Linked DNA regions of Homo sapiens. The protein of the gene in region 2 purifies or fractionates together with the protein of the main gene of each other region. This does not show direct contact. Each region holds a gene or a part of one and is shown on either strand. Other genes may lie near its edges.

What was found. The genes of interacting proteins can lie anywhere in the genome.
Region 1: the proteins of COBL (region 2) and WDR47 purify together in Homo sapiens (affinity purification with mass spectrometry; 2 studies listed by BioGRID and IntAct, with this or other methods). This does not show direct contact.

Annotation. Positions count from the first base shown.
Region 1 is NC_000001.11:109,035,603-109,039,102, forward strand, and holds part of WDR47 (WD repeat-containing protein 47), read right to left. Parts: intron 1-3,500.
Region 2 is NC_000007.14:51,191,310-51,194,809, forward strand, and holds part of COBL (protein cordon-bleu), read right to left. Parts: intron 2,281-3,500; coding exon 2,070-2,280; intron 1-2,069.

The sequences.
Region 1 (3,500 bases), on a different chromosome or scaffold from region 2:
TTCTCCTGCCTTGGCCTCCCGAGTAGCTGGGATTACAGGCGCCCACCACCACACCCAGCTATTTTGCATTTTTAGTAGAGACGGGGTTTCACCATGTTGGCCAGGCTAGTCTCGAACTCCCGACCTCAGGTGATCCACCCACCTCGGTCTCCCAAAATGCTGGGATTACAGGCATGAGCCACTATGCCCAGCCAATTTTTAATTTTGTATCTTCTTTTTTTTTTTTTTAAGAGAAGGAGTCTTACTATGCTACCCAGACTACAGTGTAGTTGCTATTGCCGGGCCTGTTCATAGCACACTACAGCCTCAAACTCCTGCGCTCAAGCAATTCTTCTGCCTCAGCCTCTTGAGTAGCTAAGACTATAGACATATGCCAACTTGCCTGGCTCAATTTTTAATTTTAAAGCAAAAAAGAACTATGAAAATGAAAAATATATACATATTAAAGGATTAGATCTCAAAGGTTTTAATCTATAAAGGTACCAACTAAAGTACAATCCCCAAAACAGGATTAACTGCTTTGTTTACAATGCAAAAACTACTGGGTACTATTTTAGGATCTTACATTCATTGTCTAATCGATCCTTACAAAAACCATTCTTCACCAGAAGATAGCTTCTAGATCCCTTCCCACTCCCGTCATCCTCCTCTAAATATCTGTTAATCCCCCTCCTAAAGAACCCAAAATAGGCCAGGCGCGGTGGCTCACATCTGTAATCCCAGCACTATAGGAGCCTGAGGCAGGTGGATCACAAAGTCAGGAGATCCAGACCATCCTGGCCAACATGGTGAAATCCCGTCTCTACTAAAAATACAAAAATTAGCCGGGCTTGGTAGCGTGCGCCTGTAGTCCCAGGAGGAGGTGAAGGTTGCAGTGAGCCGAGATGGCACCACTGCACTACAGCCTGGGCGACTGAGCAAGACTCCGTCTCAAAAAAAAAAAAAAAACATAGTCCAGGCGCGGTGGCTCACACCTGTAATCTCACCACTTTGGAAGGCCGAGGCAAGCGGATCACGGGGTCAGCAGATCGAGACCATCCTGGCTAACACGGTGAAACCCCGTCTCTACTAACAATACAAAAAATTAGCTGGGCGTGGTGGCAGGCGCCTGTAGTCCCAGCTACTCAGGAGGCCGAGGCAGGAGAATGGCGTGAACCCCGGGGCGGAGCTTGCAGTGAGCCGAGATCATGCCACTGCACTACAGCCTGGGGCGACAGAGTGAGACTCCATCTCAAAATAAATAAATAAATAAATAATAAAGCACAACACTCCAGGTGTGGTCTGATCAAGAACTATATACAGTGAAACTAACAATTCCCATCATCTAGGCTCTTTACAATGAATACACCTAAAATTTCTTTATATCATCATCTATTTGTGAAATGCTGTTTTTGCACTTCCCGGAATTTCATTTCCAAAGCTCTTCTTAAAGTTTCAAAGAAAATCGCCAGGTGCGGTGGCTCACGCCTGTAATCCCAGCACTTTGGGAGGCCGAGGCAGGCAGATCACCTGAGGTTGGGAGTTCAAGACCAGCCTGACCAACATGGAGAAACCCCGTCTCTACCAAAAATACAAAATTAGCCAGGCGTGGTGGCACATGCCGGTAATCCCAGCTACTAGGGAGGCTGAGGCAGGAGAATCACTTGAACCTGGAAGGCAGAGGTTGCGGTGAGCCGACATCACGCCATCACACTCCAGCCTGGGCAACAAGAGCAAAACTCCGTCTAAAAAAAAAAAAACAAAAAACAAAACAAGACTGGGCGTGGTGGCTCACGCTTGTAATCCCAGCACTTTGGGAGGCCGAGGTGGGCAGATCACGAGGTCAGGAGATCGAGACCACAGTGAAACCCTGTCTCTACTAAAAATATAAAAAATTAGCCGGGCTTGGTGGCGGGCGCCTGTAATCCCAGCTACTCAGAGAGGCTGAGGCAGGAGAATGGCATGAACCTGGGAGGCGGAGCTTGCAGTGAGCTGAGATCGCACCACTGCACTCCAGCCTGGGGGACAGAGCGAGACCTCGTCTCAAAAAAAAAAAAAAAAAAAACCAACCCAATTCTATAAAATTTTCTCAAAAGATTTTATAAAAGGTTCCATTTTCTTTTTCATCACAACAACAAGAGTCACAAAACATGGTACTTAGCCATAGGAAAAAAACATTATTTGAGTTACATATGTCAAGCATACTACATAACTAGTAATTATAAATAGTATAAAATTTTTATGTCTTTTTGCTTGTAGTACTATTTTTTTCTATCTTTCTTTCTTTCTCTCTCTTTGAGACTGGGTCTCACTGTCTCCCAGGCTGGTAGAGCCTTGTCCACCCAGGCTCAAGTGATTCTCTCACCTCAGCCTCCCCAGTAGCTAGGACCACAGGTGTGCACCACCACACTCAGCTAGCATTTTTTTTTTAATTGTTTGTAGACATGAGGTCTCACTATGTTGCCCAGGCTGGTCTCAAACGTCTGGGCTCAAGCAATCCTCCCACCTCATCCTCCCAAAATGCTCGCATTACAGGTATGAGCCACCTCGCCCAGCCCAGTACTATTTCTCAGTTAAAACAGGATGTTGACTTGTAAAATGAGAACAAGCTCCTAGCAGAGTGGCAAGCATGCAACTGGTGCTCAATAAATGTAAATTCCTTCCCTTCAGAGCTCCTAGCCTTGGTAAGGACAATGTGTCAAAAGGACTGCTAATGAATTGCTGCGGGAGAGCTACTGTGCTGTGAAGTATAAAAATTTACTTTGGAATAAGCTTACTTATTTTTGAAAATATTTCAGTAATTTAAAAAATATCGAGCCAGGTGCAGTGGCTCATGCCTGTAATCCCAGCACTTTGGGAAGCCAAGGCAGGCAGGTCACTTGAGTCTAGGAGTTCAACACCAGCCTGGGCAACATGGCAAAACCCTATCTCTACAAAAAATACAAAAATTAGCCAGGTGTGGTGGCAAGCACCTGTAGTCCTAGCTACTCGGGAGGCTGAGGTAGGAGGATCACTTGAGCCCAGGAGTTTGAGGCTGCAGTGGGCTATCATCATGCCACTGTACTGCAGCCTGAACGATAAAGTGAGACCCTGTCTCAAAAAATAAATAAACAGGCCAGGTGCAGTGGCTCACGCCTGTAATCACAACACTTTGGGAGGCCGAACTGGGTGGATCACTTGAGGTCAGGCATTCAAGACCAGCCTGGCCAACATGGTGAAACCCTGTCTCTACTAAAAATACAAAAATTAGTCAAGTGTGGGGGTATGTGCACCTGCAATCCCAGCTACTTGGGAGGCTGAGGCAGGAGAATCACTTGAACTTGGGAGGCGGAGGTTGCAGTGAGCCGAGATCACGCCACTGCACTCCAGCCTAGGCAACAGAGCGAGACCCCATCTCAAATAATAACAATAATAATAAATAAATAAATAAATAAATATTGGAAAGTTCACTGAGATCAATTATGTTAAACATACTATATGAAGAAACTCCTACTTGTGATAATATTCATCTGAAGCCATTT
Region 2 (3,500 bases):
AGCGAAATAAACATCAGGGAAGACTCTACATTTAAAATCCAACACATATACTTTACTGTCTTCCAAGGGTTCTGGCCAGATGTGAACACATGGCACTTATATGCATTTTCTAAAAAAAAAAGTTTGGAAGCAGTATGAATAATTTAAAGAAAAACCCTCCAAAAACATGACATCAAAGTTTTAAGGAGTCAAAATATCCACATAAATACAGGAATATCTATATATGTACATAGATATATATATATATAAATACATATATACTGTATATATGTACTATATACACACATATATGAAACATATACAGTGTGTACACAGACCTACATGTATTTATGTATACACACTACACACACGTATTTAAGCTATAAATATATTTTAAAAAACACCAGGCATATATAATAATCAGGAAGAAAAACACTCAGTTGACTAATGCTAATTCTAAATGACTGCAGATAAAGTGGTAGTCATTTTTCTCCCACTTTTTGATTATTTTTCTTCCGCTTTTACTGATCACTCTAATTGTGCTAAGACACTGTAGAGCTGGACACAGTAAATGTAGATTGAACAAAAGAGCAGCAAAGGAAGGCCTCACGCTCTCTTCCAGCCTGCGTACCAGGGCCCAGTGGCTGGGATAACAATGCATTTTGGGAGAAAAGACGGAACCTACTGCTCCTTTACTGGTCCTCTCCTGCCCTAACAAGTGGAATCATGCAGATGCCTGGGCTCACCTGCCCTGAGAAGCAGGAAGTCAAGGGAAGACGCAAGGTATATACAGAGATGCTCTGCCTCAAACACTGTTTACTTGAGGAATAAGGGGAAATCTCTGGTCAGAGTGTTCCAGATAACAGTGAGAATGCACTAACCAATCAATCCTAGAAATTAATAGGAGATTAATGTTGGCTGCATTACCATTTTTAAAAGCAGGAAAATTTAGAAGGTCTGCTAAGAATATGAAAGTAACATTGCTTTTAATTTTAGCTAAAAGATTAATATCAAAGCCTTATTTAAAAGTACAATAAAGCTGGGTATGGTGGTTCAGGCCTGTAATCCCAGCACTTTGGGAGGCTGAGGTGGGTGGATCACCTGAGGTCAGGAGTTCAAGACCAGACTGGCCAACATGGTGAAACCTTGTCTCTACTAAATACACAAATTAGCCGGGTGTGGTGGCATGCACCTGTAGTCCCAGCTACTCAGGAGGCTGAGGCAGAAGAACTGCTTGAACCTGGGAGGCAGAGGTAGCAGTGAGCCAAGATCACACCACTGCATTCCAGCCTGGGCAACAAGAGTGAAGCTCCGTCTCAAAACAACAACAACAAAAACAATAAAAGTATATAATAAGCTACTAGAATTAATTTTAATTAATAAACAAAAGCCTGGAATATAGCTATGTATATAAGATATTCTCCAAATGCAATGAATAAATATTTCTGACATCAGTTTTTCAAAAAAGTTTTTTTCCCTTTCTTTTCTCTTCCTCTGGGAAGATGTTTAAATCTTCTATGGATACCAACTGCTTCCTGAGTCAGGAAGAATTCTAGAACTACACTGTCCAATCAGGTAGCCATTAGCTAGTGGCAATTTAAATTTAAAGTTAAAATTAAATTAAAAATTCAGTTTCTCAATCATACCTGCCACATTTCAAGTGTTCAAAAGCTGTGTCAATTAAAATGAAAAAAGAAAAATCTACATGAATATTTTAGATATTTAAGTTATAATAAACATACCAAATTTTTAAAAAAGCTGCATGCAGCCAGTGGCTATCATATAAGAAAGTACAGAATTAAAGACCATGCCCCTCTTTGAATGAAGGTCTAATGGATAGCTCCACTGTAGATCAATTCCTCTTCTATAATATATAAAGAAGCAATGTTACAACAATAAACATTATTCAATTGTGTACATTTTGTCTCCTAAAACAAACTCTGTTTAGTGCCTAGCTTTGCCTGGCATGAAAGTAGCAGCCTCAGCCACAGCTCTCTGCACTGTACTTTGATAAGAAGAGCCACACTGGCCCCTACTCAGGACCTGCCACACATTCAGACACAGGTATTTCCATGTAGGTACCTACTAACCTCAGGCACCTTAGGGGGACCAGGCTTAACCTTCTCTTCAGGAACTTTTTCTTTCAGAAACACAGTATGCACATTCAGGGTCCCAATCAAAGTATTTGGCTTAAAACTCAAAGGTTGTTGGGTTTCTGAAGACCGAATTTCAAGGGCATGGTGGGATGGATTCAGGTGGTTCTGAAGGCAAAGTTCAACCAGTAGGTCCATCATCGCATGGCTGAAAAAAGGAAAACAAATCATGATTATTAGGAATGACTGCACTCTCTCTTTTGCCTGGCTAAATAAGGGTAGAACAAATGAACAAGTGGATGAATGAGCAAATTAGATATGCTTATGAAAAAAGACAACAGAAGCTCATTAATTCCTTCTGCATGGTTGTAGAGCAATATGTTAACATTTTCAGCACTAACAAACAACACTATTGAAAGAGAAAAATCATAATTAATAGCTTGGAAAATAGTTATATTTTTAGTTAAATCCAAGGGTATGTTGAGTTGGATCATCTAAGGTCTGTTAGCACAAATATTTTTCATGCATACAAGACACTAAATTTTCAGTTATTCAGAAATATAATGTATCTTTTTGATTTAACTTTTAAGTTCAGGGGTACATGTGCAGGTTTGTTACACAGCTAAACTTGTGTCATGGGGGCTTGTTGTACAGCTTATTTTATCAACCAGGTATTAATCCTAGTACCCATTAGTTATTTTTTCTGATCCTTTCCCTCCTCCCACCCTCCATCCTCTGAGAGACTCCAGTGTTTGTTGTTGTTCCCCTCTATGTGTCCATGTGTTGACATCATTTAGCTCCCACCTATAAGTGAGAACATGCAGTATTTGGTTCTCTGTTGTTGCATTAGTTTGCTAAGGATAATGACCTCTAGCTCCATCCATGTTTTTACAAAGGACATGATCTTGTTCTTTTTTTTAATGGATGCATAGTAGTCCATGGTGTATCTGTACTACATTTTCTTTATCCAACATACTATTGATGGGTCTTTAGGTTGATTCCATGTCTTTGCTATTGTGAATAGTGCTGCAATGAACATACACATGCATGTGTCTTTATGACAGAATGATTTATATTCCTTTGGGTATACACCCAGTAATGGGATTGCTGGGTTGAATGGTAGTTCTGCTTTTAGGTCTTGGAGGAATTGCCACACTGTCTCTTCCACAATGGTTGAACTAATTTACAATCCCATCAACAGTGTATAAGTGTTCCTTTTTCTCTGCAACCTTACCAGCATCTGTTGGTTTTTGACTTTTTCATGATAGCCCTTCTGACTGGTGTAAGATGGTATCTCATTGCGGTTTTGATTTGCATTTCTCTAATGATCACTGATGTTGAGCTTTTTTTCATGTTTGTTGGCCTCATGTGTGTCTTCTTTTGAAAAGTGTCTGTTCATGTCCTTTGCCCACTTTTTCTTTTTTATTA